Linked DNA regions of Homo sapiens: region 2 is linked to region 1. The links come from fine-mapping of genetic effects on gene expression. Tissue or cell type: whole blood. Region 1 holds a variant in brackets; the other region holds the start of a gene. All regions are shown on one strand. Distances are from middle to middle.

Region 1 (8,171 bases):
TGGCCCGGCCAGGACTGGACAGCAGGCTCCCGCAGGACGGCAGGGTGGAGCCTTCTGGAATAGTGGCTCCTCCAGGGGCAAAGCGGGAACAGAGGTGCCTGCACTGAGGGTGCGCCCTGGGGGCAGGAGACACAGGCTTCCCTATGGAGCTAGCTGGCGAGGGGTGGGGGTGGCTTCAGTGGAGCCCTGCCCCGCGTGGTCTGCAAAGCCTGGGTACTGCTTGGGACACAGGCCTGGGCCTGTAGGTGGCACCCCGCACCTGCAGACTTACTGGCATCCCTTGCCCTCCGGCCCAAGCTGCACGGGGGCGTCACTCTGGCCTGTCCTGCCCTCTCTCCCCTCTGCCCAGCCTGTCCCAGGTGTCAGGCAGTGGGAGGGGCTAACCAGCCCTGCCCGTCTTTCCAGGGAGAGGTTCCCTGAGGTCTTTTCCTACATTGTGGGGGTGCTGTGGGGGTGCAGCCCCCAAGTCATGGGCACAGAAAACCCCAAAGACCCTTCCTTACTGAAAGGGTCCAAGCATGCGCTCCACAAAACCCAAGCCCACCAGCTCGGTGCAGAGCAGCGGCCTGGGCTGGCGGGCGGCTTTAGAGAAAGTCTACAGGGGCCGAGAGGAGTGCATCCTTGTGCACAGGGCCGGCCCCTGCTGCCACTTGCCGTGGTGTGGCCAGCAGCCACCGTGCAGCTAGGAGCACATGACCACAGGGCCTTCCGGGGCCAGGACAGAGGGGTGGCCAGACAGAGGGGCCTGCCCCACTGGGACCCCTCCCAAGCGCTCCGGGCCTCACTGGCATGAGGCTCATCATTGGTGTGTAGGAGGAAGACGGTGGGAGGCTGAGCTAGAAATCACACCGCTACGCTTTTTGTGGCTCCCAAACTGCAGAGTCAATCCCCCTGGGGTCCCTGCCCCTGCCAGCAAGGGTGGGGGTGGGTGGGGGTCAAGGGCCAGCTCGAGCTTGGTAGGCATGGCCCCTGCCGGGACCCAGTGGGGCAGGTTGGAGCAGAAAAGGATGGGAGAGGAATCTGTGGTCAGGCCCCAGATTCCTGGAGCCCTTGGAAAGTGGGAGGTGGAGGAAGACCCCCAGTGGGGAGGCCCTGCCCCAGCAACCAAGGCCCTGGCAGAAGGGGCCCCTCGATGGGCCAGACCCCTTTCCCCTCTCCCCCTACACCAAGTGGGGATTCTCAGCAGAGGAGAGGCTGGCCCTGCCCGCCCCAAGGACCCAACCAGGCCTTGGCCTGGCCTTGACTTTGGGAACCTTGGAAATCTTTGGGCCTTGACTTTGGGAATCTTGGCTGTGGCTGGGAGAAAGCTGGGTGGTCTTGGAGGATGAGCAGAGGTGACAGGCTTGGGTGGGACCGTTTGAACATCCTTCCTAACCAGTGCCTTCCCCGGCACAGACTGGACTTCGACATTGTCCGGCGAAGCAGTGGGTGGTGTCTGGCAGCGACTTGGGAGATCATTTCCCGATGACATCACAGTGTGGTGTTTTCTCTTGGATGCAAACCACACTCTTCACTTGGCTTCAAAACAGCTTAAGCGAGCGAACAGAGACTAGGAGGGAACGGAAACTGTCCGAGCAGGCGGGCGGGGGCGGCTTAGGATCTGTAGTCCTTTTTGCTGTAGGGTTTATTGCCCAAAATACTATCAATCTCGTGGATAATGGAAGATGACAGTTTCGGAAGGACCTGCGTGCAAGAACAACAACAAATCAGAATCCCACCAACAAGACGGGCCTGGCCTGGGGAGGAGGTGGGGCCAGGCTCTTCCAGATGGTCGGCTGGCCAGGCCCGGGTTGCCCCATCACATCTGGGCTCCATCTGAGGCAGATGGAGGCCACGCTGCTTTTGTGTTTCAGAAGGTTTGGGGCAGAGAGGAAGCATGCCTGGGTCTGTGCACTCCCTCTCAAATGTCAAGGTGCCCTAGAACCTTCCTGAAGGGTGGTGGCAGCAGTGACATAAAATGGAAACTCCAGGCCAAATGCTGGACTTCCATGTCCGTGACTGCTTTTTCCAGCTGCGCCTGCCTCAGCATACAGCACCGCCACCCTTCCGGGTGACACACCCGGGGACCGACTTCCACCTCGCCTTCTCACCCCCACATCCAGTTTGTCAGCCAGTCCCGGGGGCCCCACCTTCCCAAACATCCAGGATCCAACCACCACTCCCGTCTCGGACCCGCAGCTGCCACTTCCCACCAGGGCTCTCTGCTTCGACTTTTGCTTCCCAAAGCCTCCCCGATGGAGCAGCCGGAGAGCAGCCTCCCTTTCCAGGCTGAGCTGCAGCTCGCCCTCCTCTGCCCACAATTTTGCCACGGCTCCCGTCTCACTCAGAAGTCCCTGGAGGTGTTTCGTGCCTCTCAGGATCTGCCCCTCTGCTCCAGGCCTTTTTGGGCCTTTGCATCAACTCTTCCTGCTGGTGGAAGGTTCTTCCCGCAGGCATTTGCGTGACTTACTCCGCATCTCTCAAGACTGCTCAAGCACCACCTTCTCAACAAGCCCACCTGACAGGCCCCCTTGAACCTGAGTCTGCAGCGCCACCGTCCCTGGCCCCAGCTCCCTCCCTTTATCTCTGGCTTCTCTCCTACAGCGCTCGTCCACCCTGACACACATTCTAACCTCCTTGTTTCGTGCAGTTAGTGTTCATGTCTGTTCCTGCTGGAAAGCAAGCTCTCCAGGAGCACAACTCTGATGGTTCACGGGCGCATCCTGAGTGCCTAGAACAGAGCCTGGCACGCAGGACGAGCCTGGGAGGATGCACTGGACGGGGCTCGGGCTGGGATGGGCCCTCTGCCCAGCAGGGCCTCTCACTCTTACCTGTATTGCCCCAATGTTCTCCATGAGCTGGTCCGCATTGGAGGCCCCCAGGAGCACGGAGCTGACTCCCTCATTCCTCAGGCACCAGGCTGTGGCGGCGAGACCCAAGGTGAGGGAGAAACACCCACCACAGGGGCCCCTGATGGGTCTGCCTTGCCTCTGACTGGGCCGAGAGACCCAGCATCTTGGTCTGGGGGTCTGAGGGGGTCTAGGAAGCCCTGCAGTGCTGGGCACGGGCTTTGTCTAAGAGGTGGCTGGAGGAGGCATGGGGGAGCCCGCTGCTCCCTGATGGAGAGGTGGCCCAAGTGCTTAGCGCTCCCCATCCTCTTCCCATGAAAGCGGGAGCCCCATTACCTATGGCTGGCAGATGGAGGGGGTGGCCCAGGTCCTCAGGGACTCCTGACATCCCCCTAGAGGCATGGGGTCCCAACCATGCCCCTTAGAGCCCGATTACCCGAGGCTGGCTGGGGGATGATGTCCAGGGATCCCTTCCCTCTCTCCC[C/T]GGAGACACTGGCCCCATGGCAACCCCACCCTGTTACCTACGGCCAGCTGGGGCAGGTTCTCCCCAGGGGCACTGGCCCCATGGCGACCCCACCGTTACCTATGGCCAGCTGGGGCAGGGTGCAGCCCAGGCGCTCGGCGATGGCCTGCAGCTCCTTCAGCTTGGCTTGCTGGCGCCGGCCCTCCTCACTGAGGATCTTGTCCTTCAGCCACTGGTAGCCCTGGTTGCGGGGGAGGGGAGCAGCACAGCTACAGATGAGAGCAGGTCACCTGGACCCCCACGTGCAGGGGGCCGATGGGCTCATTCCTTCTGGACCCTTCTCCCTCATAGGGGCTCTTCTCATCTTGAAGCCAGGGCAGTGCCCCTGCCCCAGGCCTCTCAAGTAGGGGAGAGTGGGCAGTGGGCCGGGCACGGGCTGGTGGATGAGCGGGGCCTGTCCAGGCTCTGAAGTGCAAAGACTGTGGTGCTGGCCCAACCCCAAGTCAGGACAAGGAGGCGAGGTGCTGGCCTTCCTTCTCTTAGGAAACTTGGCAGCCTGGGGTCTCGGCTGCCACCCGTGGCCCAGAAGAACCTCCTGGCCCTAGGGGAGTGCTCTCTCCCCTGGCCATCCCCCCCAGAGGATTGCAGGGCCTCCTGGAGGGGGGCCCTGACCTTGCCATGGGATGGGAGGAGTCGGGGGCCAGGCCACGTTGCCCTGGAACCCAGGGCTGTGGGCCCCAGTGCTGAGACTGCTGGCTGGGCAGACTTTCTTGGCCTGCTCCTTGTTCTCCAGATCCTGCAGTCTGGGGACCCTCCTGAGTCCCCACTCAGAGGTTGTGTGGTGGGGAGGGGCGCCTCTCCCAGGGTCACCTCCATGTGGCTTTGCAGCCCCCATCTCGGAGCCCAGGCCCAGGGGTCTCAGAGTTCTGAATGCTGGGCTGTGGTGGGGGGCAGAGGTGGGGGATGTGGTAGGGGGTAGAGATGGGGGGATGTGGTGGGGGCAGGGGGGGGGATGTGAAAGGGCCTCTCCACTTGGGCCTGTGCCACAGGCTGGGCAGCCCCTCTACACATGGGATCAGGCCAGGAGGGGCTCCATGTTCTCACGCCAAGGAGCCCGCCCCCAGCAGACCGAGGTGGGAACAGCTGCAGCTCCCGGAACCCCTGCCCAGCACCAAAGCAGTCGGCCCAAAGGTCCCACCCGTCCAAAATGCCTATCCCCTGCCCGTCCCTCCCCACCAGGCTGTTCCTTCACCTTCAAGGAGGCTCTTGAGTAGGGTGGGATGCCACTGTCGTACTTGCCAGAAACAATGCCACAGGCCAGAGGGGACCAGGTCATGGCGCCCACTCCTGAAGAGGAAAAGCAGGTGGAGTCAAGCCCTGGGCCCGAGAGCAGGGGTGGGGTGGGGCGGGGCGAGGGGCCCGAGGGTGCCCACCTATCTTGTGGAACAGCTCCGGCAGCTGCACCTCCACTTTCTCACGCTGGAACATGTGGTACTCAGCCTGCTCGCAGATGGGCGGGGTCAGGTTGAACTGCCGGGCCACGGAGTAGGCCTCCTGTGAAGGCAGAAAGGGACCCCGAGGGCCCTTGCCTGTGAGCAGGCGGGAGGCTGCCGGGGCAGCCATGGAGAGGGCACCAAGGTGTCCCCGGAGCAGGCTGGCCCAGCAGCTGCAGCCCGGGCTCCCCACTGCTCACACTCATAGCTTCCCTGGGAGCCAGGCAGGCCCTGGTGAGCTGGGAAAAGGAGGTGGGTGGTGGGACCCCCAGGCCGGAGGGTCCAGTTATGAGCAGCCCAGGCTCTGAACCACACAGCCTGGATGTTAATCTTGGCCCAAGCTGTGTGACCTTGGCATGTTACTGAACCTCTCTGTGCCACAGTGTCCACATCTGAAAAATGGGCTGCCTGCGGCACTCACCTGGTAAAGGCACCGGTGAGGATTGCATGTGAGAGGGTCCCTGTGGAACCCTTGACCCTAACAGCACCGGGCACGTCTCAGGAGCCCAGTGGAAACAGCTGACGGTGTTGTCACCCCAGAGTGCTTGCTGAGCTCCAGGGCATCTGCTAAGAGCTTCACACTGGCTCTCTCAGGGACTCCTTAGAATGGCCCCATGGGGGCTCACCTAGCAGATGTGTTCTACAGGTGGGGAAACAAGCTCAGAGACGTTAAGCCATTTGTCCAGGGCCACACAGCGCTGGGATCCATGCAGAATCCCCGTCTGCAAGGCCTACAGACATAACCACCACACTCCACCATCCTGTCCCTCCCTTAGCACCCAGGCATCGGTGCAGTTGGGACCAAAGGCACAGACCCCGCCAGAGCTTTGGGGTCTCCATACGCAGCCGGTGCCGGGAGTCTGTGCCTGGACACACACATGCTGCGCGGCCACCGTACCATGATCTCCATGGAGCTCCAGCGTGACGTGCCCCAGTACATGGCCATCCCCTGGTTGATGACGTGGGTCATGGCGCGGACGGTCTCTGTCGTGAGAGAAAGGGAAACCGCAGGTGGGGGGCAGCCAGGGCTCAGGGCCAGCCTCGGGACATTCTGCAAATACAGGCAGGACGCTGGGAGGAGGGACAGGGGCTGCGAAGATGTCTTGCAAGCAGTGTACTTCCTGGCTCTGAAGTTGGGTGTGGGAGGGGTTTTTTGGGATGAAAGAGAAAAGTGAACCACAATCCTAGAAGTTGGTCGTGAAAACAATTTCCCCGACTGGTTACAGGCCTATGGAAATGTTGAAAAATGGGTTATGGATGGACCGTGATGTTTCTATGGTAGATTAGAGGGGACAATCAAAGAATGTGGCTCTGGACTCTAGAACTGGAGGTTCTCTGGTCTGGGGAAGATTCGAGGGCCCCGATCACTCAGGAAGGACCAGGTGAATGCATGAACGTTACAGTCAGATTGGCGGCAGGAGGGACATGTGTTTTTGCGTTTCTGGTCTCCTACTTCGGGCTATTCCAAAGTCTAATTGGAACAGAGAGTGGGCTGGATAAGGAGATGTGGCAGGACCTGGGGCGCCATATGGTCCCGGAGAATAGGGCTTCGGGGCTGAGCTCATGTTTCCTGTCATGTCCAGGAGACTGAGAAGTGGGCGTGGAAAGCCTTGTAAGACCATGGCCCAGGTTCTCAAACCAGCCCAGCACCAGGCCAGAGTCCCAACCCGCCTGTCCCCTGGCAAGGGGTGGTCCCAGGGCCACAGGGGTCTGGGTGCTCCTCCTGTGAGGGGCCAGGGCCTGGAGTAGGACAGTTTTGAGGCTCCATGAGCCCTGGGAACAACCTGAATCGTGGACGGCGGAGACTCCTAAGGCCCTGAGGATGAAATCGCGGAGACTTCACGCTGGCCTTTTAAAGAAGAGAGGAGGGACCCTCGCCCCAGCGACACAGTGGATTCTTCCCAATATTCAAACATGGCTTTGAGACACAGCAATCTGCTGGTTATAGCTCCCTCTCAGCCTCATGGGGATATTGTGATTTTAAAAACAGAACTTGGCGTCGAAATTTCAAATTTCAGAAGCCTCTGAGCTTTGCAGGGCGAGGGACTATGGCGCTAGGCTTCTCACGGGTCGGATACAGTGCTTGCAAGTTCGACCGCCAAAGGCAGTGTGGGAGTGAGTGGGAGTGCAAGTGTTTCTAAAGACAGCAACAACGTTGACCCTGGAAAAGCCCTGGCTCTCCCTCAGTGCCTGCTTGTCCTTTGCCCATGCTGCGTGGAAGCTGAGGTCCTGAAAATGCTGGGAGTGGGGCTGATGGGAAGGAAGGAAGGATGGAAGATGCTGGGTTTGTTCTGCAGGCTCCCCCCTGGAATGGCAACGAGGCCACAAAGTGGCAGTGCTGGCTTCCCGTCCACTTCTGTTTTGGGGGTCGCTCCCTGAGTGCCCCTTTACTGAGGTCCACCCTGAGCAGAACCTGGGGCCTCCTAAAGGCTAGAGCTGAGGCCACTGGGGTTTCTGGAGTGGTGGTCTCGGCAGACTCACCCAGGACCCCTGGCAAACCACCCTTGGCTTCCACGCTTGCAGGCCCAGCCCTGCTCTCTGCTTACTTCCAAGGTCAGAGGTTGTAGCTCCTGGGAATCCTCTCTGTCCCCTCCTGGGGGTGGAGATCTGGGAGGGAGTCTGAACTCTCTGGGCCACCTCCCTGGGCCACCTGCTTTAACTGCCAACTCCGATAGACCCTCAGGAAGTGCCTGGTTGGGAAAGTTTGAGGAGAACCTAGAGGGTCCCAGGAGAATCTCTGACTACATCCTGCCCAGGTCCGGGCTCCTGGCCTGCCCGGCCTTGTGGTTTTTTAGAAACACTCTCGGGGCACCTGTGAGCATGCAGCATCAGTTCCCGATTCTTCTCAGCCAAGGCTTAGGTCCACATGCCAGACAGAGGGAAGCCAAGGCCCCCAAGGCCAGCCCCGTTCCCTCACTCTCCCTCCCCGGCAGCTGTCTCAGGTCTCCAAGGTCCCAGCCAGTGAAACCGCATGCTGCCCTGCGGCGCCCCTTCCATGCAGTGATGGAGAGACGGGGCTGACGGGGCAGGAGCCTCTGGCTGTCCTGAGGTGGGGAGTCCTAGGCAAAGGCCCCTGGGCTCCCTGGAGGATCTGGGCAGAAGCAGGCTGGACAGGGAGCCCACATGAGGGAGCACCCTGCACTTGTGCCCAAGTGTGATATCAGTGGCCCCAGACCCAGGGACAATTAGGGACAACTGTCCTTCACCTCAATATTTAATGGGGTTGAACGGAAGTAGGAAGACTGAATCCTTCTAGCTGCTGCCAAAACTCACAGCATCTCCTGCCGCATCACAAATAATACATGGGGGTTCAGGTGGCAGCACCAGTTGGCAGACAGGGGCCCAGGCCCAGGGAGATCGACACCTGCCCTTGGGGTGGGGTCCTGG
Region 2 (8,171 bases), 51 kb after region 1:
GAAAGCCGTCTGCCTTCCAGGAGAATCGCTCTGGAGGGCAGAGAGGCCCGGACTCCAGGAGAGGTTCACCTTAGGAAATGAGGCCCTTGGCACCCACAGACAGCAGCACCAGCTTCCCTTCCCTGCCTACTGGCCGGCCACTCCCTTCCCTCCATGCGCGTGGCAGGCAGCTGCTTCTGAGGTGGCCATGTGGCTAGCTGCCAGTCCGGTGTGGGGCAAATGGGGGCCAACCCTCACTTCCCTGAGGTCTGTGTTTAGAAAGAAGGCCAGCTGGGCAGGCTGTAGCCCCAGGGCTCTTTCTGAAAGGCAGGACCAGCCTCAGACACGCAAGTTCCCTGCCTGGCCCGACCAGGCTGAGATCAATAGCCATTAGCTTTCAAGACATTACTCACAAAAAGCAATCCGGGTCTGGTTTGGCTCTAGAAATATAGCCAAGGCCCCGGGGCTGGAGGACGGGGTGGCTGAGTGCCCAGCTTCTGGACAGGGGCAGCTCTGCTTGTCACCTGCTCATGGTGTGGCCCAGGCAGGCACCTTGACCGCTCCCGGCCTCAGCCTCCACATCTGTGAGGTAGGCTGGGCAGAGGCCTGTTGTACCAGGCTGCTGTGGGCTGCATGAGATGAGGCTTTGGACAACTGGGTGGGAGTTGGTGACGCAGCCAGAAGACAGTCTGTTGGGGGGCGTGGGATAAGACACCAATTATGATAAATGCTGTGGAAAGAAAAATCCACCACCAGGGGCCAGCAGGCAGGGCGGGAAGGAACTTGTGACCACAGGTTTGAGTGAGAGGAGTGAGCCACACAGACACCAAATCTCCCTAGAAAATGCTTAAGGGAAGAGAACACAGATGTGAATAATCGCCCCCTTCACAACAAGATGGTGGAAGGCTGAGTTTGGGGATGTGAGTGGGAGAGGGGAGAGAGGGCAGGACAGAATGGGTTTTGTGGCCAGGATTTAGAGGGCGTCCCTCCCTGTGGGGGCCCGCTTGCAATCTTTCCTTAGAGCTCATGTTGCAGCCCTGGGAGCAGACCTGCAGGTGGGAGCCCTGCGGCACGGAGGGAGCCCAGAGCCTCTTGCTACGAGCTTGTCCCCATGGTGCCAGGGCAGGGCTTGGGCCAGGGAACTTGCGGGCACAGAAATGGCAGCCTTTGGCATGGGGTGGTGGGGTGAGGAGCAGGGCTGGTGCCATGAGGAGCCCATGGCCGCTGGACTCCCCTGAAGGTTGGGTCCAGGAGGGCAAGGACTCTTCTGCCTGCTGCCACTGCCCCCTGACCAGTGCCCACGGGAGTGTCCCGTGCACAGAGGAGGGGCTCAGATATTTGTAGAACAGTAACCAAGGCCCAGGCTCCAAAAGGCCAACCAGGGCTATACCTGGGCATTTCCTGGCAGTGCCAGGCAGCTGTTGGTGGGGGCGGGGCTGGCTTCCTACCTCAGACCCAGCAGCTCTTTGCAGGTCACCCTCTCTTGTGTGGGGGGGACTCCCATGCCAGGACTCTGTACAGCGGGGGCTCCCTGTGGTCCTGAAGGCTCATGACTCTGGGAGGGCTGCCCCAGGGGAAGAAGGATAGGTACAGGCAGAAGGCAAAGAGGCTCTGCCCGTTACCAGCGGTGCCTGGGGACAGAGGACACCTCTGGACTCCCTCACACTGGGGCTCTATTCTGGGCTTTTGCCGAGACTCTAGCAGCGTCAGGTCCTTGGACGAAGGGCCCCCCGGTAAGACACTGCAGGGAGGAGAGAGTGGCCCCACTGCCGGGCTCCTGCCTCAGGGTCCCCACTTCTCCTGTGCTCAAGAGCACAGTGACCCCTGACTTCCAATTCAAAATATCCCAAATCCCGGCCGCTTTCCAGAGTGAGGGTCTCTGAGCCCTGACACTCCCTCACCACCCTGGTACCAAGAAAAACGAGCCCCTCCTCAATAGCCATTGCTAATTACGTGGAACCCACAAGTTCTTTCCTGGGCTGGGCCTGCCTGGTGCAAATCTATTCCTGTAGATCAGGGGCCCAGGGGAATTCACGTGAATTAACACCGTGACATGGAAAAATGCAAGGAAGATGTTAACCTCATTAAGTCAGTAGGAATCACTACCTCACCCCAGACTCCTCTACCTGGAATTTCTGAATTGTTCTGTTTACTGAAAGCCAACAAAGCATACAACCTGAGATTGAGAAGGAACCCTGAGCATCTCTTCTGAATGGTGACACCTGTCCAGAGAGCAGAGAGCCCAGCCAGAGTTCTCCAAAGCGGAAATGGAAGGGGAGCTGCTACCATTCCGGGGTGCGGCTCTACAAGACACGGCATTGCTTCAGTGCAAACACAGAATGATTTTCGCTCAAGGACAATCAGCAAACTGAGGCCCAAACAAGCAGCCCCTGGCTCCCTCAGCACGTGCTTCCTGCACAGACATTTCAGACAAGACCAAACCTCCCTGACAGCGCTCTGGGCAAAACTGGAAAATGCTGAATCTTAATCAATGGTGAACACAGCGAGGTACGAGCTAGACGCCCGTGTCTCCGGCAGATGGGAAAACAGTCAGCCTTGGGCAGGTCTGGGCTGTGAGCAGACTCAAGCGAGAGGTGCTGCCCGGCTGAAACCTGCCGCCCACCACCCCATCCATCACGGTCATTCCAAGTTTACCTCAGGCTGGCTCTTTTTTAAGGTCTTCTGCTTTGCAAAAACACGGAGGGTCTAATTCCGGATCAGACAAAACCACCCCAAAATATGGTCTCCTCTGTTATTTTTCATTCCCGCGGATGCGTGCCCCCAAGCGGCATCTCCACTAGGAAGGTAGCGGCTGAAGGGAGGACTCACCTGCCTTCGTGGGGGCGTCTGCTCGTTAAAAAGGCCACAGTCTGGTTTATTAGGGATCACCAGACACTCTAAGGATCTGGCACAGCGGCTTTTTCATTAGGGAGTGTCACTGCAGGACGTCAGAAGCAATTGGTGAATGAGATGAGTCCCACCAGAGTCGAGTTTTGAGGCAGCGAGTCCATTAGTTCTATTAGGGCGTTTTCATCTCAGTGAAAGAGGCTGAATTATTCACGAGTGCCTCTTCCCCTAAAAGCTCGGGAAGTGCAGTTCCGTGCTGCAACCTGGCAAGGCTGACTCCCGGTGCGTGGGGTTGGGGTGCAGCCCAAGGTGAGGGGGAGGTCCTGCCCGTCCCTCAGGCCTACCCTTGCTGCCTCCACCATCCCCGCGTGCCAGAAACACAAACCTTTGGACCCACAGGTCGAAAGGGGCAGGCCTTGCTCTTTGGTATCTGAGTGCGGGACACAGAGCCTGTGGCTTCCGCATACCACTCAACTCTGAACTGTGTCTGCAGCAGGGGAGCTGGGGGCCCCGTCGTATGGGGCCACCACCCACAGCCAAGGGGGTCTGGAGAGGCCTCTGCTCAGCACACGCGCATGCTCCTCCTGTCCTCTGGGGATACACCCGAGATGGGTATATCTGATACTACCGGTAGCTATAAATGGCAGGAAGGCCCCAGAACCTGCTATTTGGACTCCACACTGCCACTCACTCCAGGCAGGGACACAGGAGCCCTTCTCCACGGCACATGTCCTGACCTGGGGTTTGGGAAATGCTTTGAGACTAGGCCAAACAAGGCTGAGCTCTGGGATGAGGCTAAGTGCTGAGCCCCAACCCCAGGGTCATGACCCCCAGGGTCACTGCGTGTCACAGGATGCCAGCAAAGTCCCAGCGTGACATCATCTTCCGGCTGAGAAAGCGCGCCAGTGAATGTGGGATTTTGAATGGAGGCAGAACCGTCCCCCCATGATGAATGAGCAAACAGTGGTAGCTGCCATGGGGGAAGGTGGGGGACAGGAAATCAGTGCCCCAGTCGCAGTGTGGAAGGTAAATGAAGTGGGAGGCTGGGAGAGCACGTAGAGTCTGGAGGTGCCTGGCTGCGGGTGACTAGCTGCGAAGGCCTTGGCAATTGAAATGGTTTGTCCCCAAAGGCCCAAGCCCACTCTGTCAGATCCCCACATGTCGCCCTGGTCGGGGGGCCTGCGCCTCACTACTGGGTGGTAGCTGCAGCCTAACATGCTCCGAATGAGGCCCTCTCCTTCCCTGGGTCCACTGCTCCTCTCTGTCCCTTTCTGTCTCAGCACCTGCCCATCAGTGGCCAAGCCCTGTGGACGTGGCTTCTGACGTCCTTTTTTCAGGCCCTGCACCCCTTCATTCTCTCTCTGTGCAGTTCCTGGAGCTCAGCCGTCCTGCACCTTTCCTGGGCACTGTCTGGTCTCCTTGCATTAGCCTCTCTCTTCCCTGTCTTACTCCCTGCTACCAGGCTTCCTTCCTAGAGCAGATCTCTGACCCCTGCCCTGCTCAAACACCATAGATGGCTCCCCAGTGCCCTCTGAGTGCATCTGTGCCCCATCGCTAGGCATTCGAGGCCCCCCACCAACATCCACCTCTACAGCCAGCCTCTCTTTATTCTCCATCATGTCCCTGATGGCCCAGGCTGGGTAACTGTCACTTCCTGTTCTCTGTGCACACCTCTGAGCTGTGGCTCAGGCTGTTGTATCTACTGGAATATGCTTCCCAGCCTCTGCGTTGAATCCTGCCCAGCCTTCAAGGACCAGATCCAAGCCCCTGCTGCCTTCTCCGTGAAGTCTTCTTGGCTCTCAGCTGGCTGTGGCCCCTCCTTCCTTGGACCCCAAATGCTCTTTGGGCTTCTCCTGTGACGTGCTCTGCCTTCTGGAGATCATCAGGGCTATTTGAGACCTGGGGTACATGGAAGTATTGCTCCCAATCCTTCACCCCTCTCTGTACCCATGCCCTTTGCCATGTGACTTTATAGCTCCTCCCACTGGTGGGGGCAATATATTTCCAGCCCCTTGACTGTGGGCTGGTTCCTGAGACTTACTTTGGCCAAAAGCACGTGAGCAGAGGTGACAGCGCTCTGACCCCAACCATAGGCCGTAAGAGACCCTGCATGTTTCTGCTTTTCCTCTGGTACTTTTGCCATGGGAAGGACATGCCTGGGGTAGGCCCCAGTTAAGCATGGGAAGATGGAGGACATGGGGATCCAACTTGCAGCTTGGAGACAAACCCAGCCAAGCCAGCTTAGACGAGCTGCCTGGTCAACCCGCAGACACGGGAGCAAGGAAGAGATGCTGATTGCTGCGTGGCACTGAGTTTTGGAGTTGTTTGTTATGCAGCACTTGGTGGACAGCTGATTGGCACAGTGTCCTATGCCAATTCCTTGCCTGGGAGCTGCATGGGGGCAGGGCACATGCCTTGAACGCCTCTGCCCTGTGAGAGGGCCAGGCCTAAGTAACTGAAAGAACCATCCAATAGCCATGTTTAGTGGTATGCTTGGTGTGATGAGGGTGCCCTACTAGGAGTGGCCCCCAGCCTGTTAACAAACAAAGACCCTAGCCCTTAGAGGTCATCTCCAGAGCCCCCACAAGAGACACCCAAGTGACCCCCTGGAGATCCAACGGGTAGGATGGCCAGAGCCTGTGGGCACCAGAATTGGGGCTGAGAGCCTAGAGGGTAAGCTTCAGAGCTTCCCTTGGGGCCAGGAAGGCCACCTGGAAATGAAGGTTCTTAAGCACAGGGATCCCGGCGGGGGGGACAACATGTTGAGCCTGTGGGGTTTTGAGGGCCTTGAGTGGGCTGGAAGGCTCTCACTTGGTCACTGGATAATTTACTTGGCCCCTCCTAGGGGCAGGCCCTTGGAGCTGGATGGTCTGTACCTGTGGGCAGCCCTTTTGAGCTGGCAGGTCTGCACCTGGGATTTTCCTGCCTGCTCATCAGACCTCACCCCTTCCCTTCTGAGGACTGAGGCTGCTCCCGGCTCTCTGAGGATGCAGTTCAGGTACATGTTTTGTTTCACTGATGAAATCCCCTGGGATGAGCGGCATATGTTTGTTAGGATCTGTTATACCATGTGTACATACATCACAATACAAACATTTCATCCAGGGAAAGCATTTGCAAGCCGGAGTTCAGATTTAACTATCTTAAGCAAAATCTTATCTACCAAAATTTCAGTAGGATCTAAGAGTTGGCCATGTCTTCAGAGCTCCCTGTAAGGAGCAGGACCTCCGAGGAGGCACTGAAGGCGTGGCACAGATCACTCTGAGCATCTAGGTCCACGGTCCCCATCAGAGGTGCTATGGCTGGCAAACGGGGGGGGGGGTGGGGAGTGGGGGCGCGGGGAGAGAAAAGCTACATGGAAATACATTGCCACCTCCATGACCACTGCCTGGCACATTGGCAACGATCCCCAAAGCACTGTTACCAGATGTCCGGGTCCGAATAGAGAGACCTCCCGGCCTGACCGCCAAGATGCAGCAATGCATACCAGGGACCTGCTGCCAGAAGCCGTGCCAATTCCCCAAACAGTCCCAAGGCATGGGGAGGCTGCTGCCCATGGGCTCCAGGCAGCCCTGACATTTTACTTCCTAGGGTTGGAGGCTGCACCAAGAACATGCATCCCCTGCCTTACAGGTGAGGGAGAGGCAGCCCAGAGAGAGGAACGGGTCTCCCCAAGAGCACCCTGCAGGGCCCTAAGCCTGGCATCTTGATGTCACATCCTGCTGGGGCACAGTCTCTCGCCAGGTGCCCGGTTTGTTAATTCACCAACAGAAAAACATATCAGAAAGATGTCACTGATCCACGTCGTATCAGTACTGCACACCCCCAAGCAGGCATTAACCTTCAATGAGCCTGAGGAGCTCTGTGAGTTCCAGATCAGGTCAAACCCACAGGCAAAGGGGGAACGGATGGGCTCGCCACGTCCTGTACTCTGATAATGGAAGCAGGGCAAGCTGGTGACCACAGGAAGACATCTCCCTCACTGCCTGATGAGTGAAGCTTTAACGGTAGATTTGGCTGAGAGCTTGGCAGTCATCAAAAGCCCATTTGCTCAAATCAAAGCAAACTTCTGGCAGACCAACACATACAATTAACCTGACTTCACATTTTCCATCAGGACATTGCACAGCATCCTGTGGGTAGGCACAGAGGGTGATGAGCAGAGCCTGGGGGTCTCGGGGGCTTTGGCTTCAGAGAATACACCAGCACACCCTGCTCGGCAAGGGTGCAGTCCTCCCACCCGCTCCCTGGCCTTCGGCTCGCTGGGTTTTAGGGAGAATGAAGACTCATTACCTGTAAAACTGGAGCTGTCTTTTGGGACTCCCATACCGAGTACTTCGGACAGCAATGGAGAAAAGAGAAAAAGGAGAAAGGGAGAGAAGAGAGAGAGTCCACAGTTGGCATCAACCCCAGCAGGTGCAGGTCAGAAAGAACCACCAATGTCCCATGCCCCCGGGCCCCCACCAGTCGCCTGCTCAGGGCAGTCTCTGAGGAAGCGCAGCCGGTGCCAAGTGCTCTGCAGCAGCGCCACCCGGTGGCCACGGGGCAGAGACCCGGAGCCAGTTTCCTGGACACCAAGGGCTCCTTCCATGCCAGGCCCTGTTTTCCGTGGTGAACCTCCGAGTGAGGGTTGGTTTGGATTGAATGTGCTTCAGGACTTGCTTTGCAATATGCTTGTGGGCAATGGCTGAAAACCCTCCAACCCAGACGTGCAGAGCACCCGCGTGCTGGCAAACCCGCACCTGCCCGCCTGGCTCTTCTTAGGACAGACACTGCCTTTCCCTGTGGCTGTCACAGACACGGGCTCTGGCTCAGGCCCCAGTGATTATCCGGAAAGGTCTGGCTTCCCAAGACTGATGGGCTGCTGGGGTACTGCCTGTGCCTGCGTCTTTCGTGGGTTCTATGCTCTGTCCCCAGAGGCTCAGCTCTCACTGAACGCCCTCCGCAGCTGTCGCTGATGTTCAGCGCTGTTTATGGTGCAGACAGAAACACCCAGGGCTGCAAGCGGAAGTGAGTTCCACAAGGAGGGGGTCAGGATGCCCCAGGAGCATTTGGCCGCCCCCACTCCCTCCAGTGTTGGGAAACCGGCAGACGTGGTTCCCCAAAGGCCTGCAAGGTCGTCATCCTCGCTCAGGAGAAACTGGCAGGGCCACAGGGGCTGCGATGTATAAAGTGGGAGGAACAGGATGCCGGGGTTGGCCGTGCACTCACTGTCCGGCCGCTCTGTTAACCTCAAACGAGATATTTCGGAAGGGTCAGGGACAAGAAAGGAGTCTACTCTGGCTCAAACGCCCTGGAAAAGTTTTGGTTTTTCTTTCCCACTTGGGTTTTTAAAGCCCCTGCTC

The links. PIP is the estimated chance that this variant, and not a neighbour inherited with it, causes the effect.
Region 2: it holds the start of KCNAB2, and the variant in region 1 is fine-mapped to the expression of KCNAB2 in whole blood (TOPMed, PIP 0.98).

The regions. Positions count from the first base shown.
Region 1 is chr1:6,091,997-6,100,167 of GRCh38, reverse strand. It overlaps KCNAB2 (potassium voltage-gated channel subfamily A regulatory beta subunit 2), which reads right to left. Exons shown (of 16, transcript NM_001199862.2): 11 at 5,683-5,768; 12 at 4,725-4,845; 13 at 4,544-4,638; 14 at 3,412-3,532; 15 at 2,811-2,899; 16 at 1-1,683. The coding sequence ends at 1,594. Among named protein-coding and RNA genes, the nearest start is that of KCNAB2, 50 kb to the right of the region's middle. The variant C/T (reference allele first, on the strand shown) is at 3,313.
Region 2 is chr1:6,040,821-6,048,991 of GRCh38, reverse strand. It overlaps KCNAB2 (potassium voltage-gated channel subfamily A regulatory beta subunit 2), which reads right to left and starts at 3,104. Exons shown (of 16, transcript NM_001199862.2): 1 at 2,809-3,104.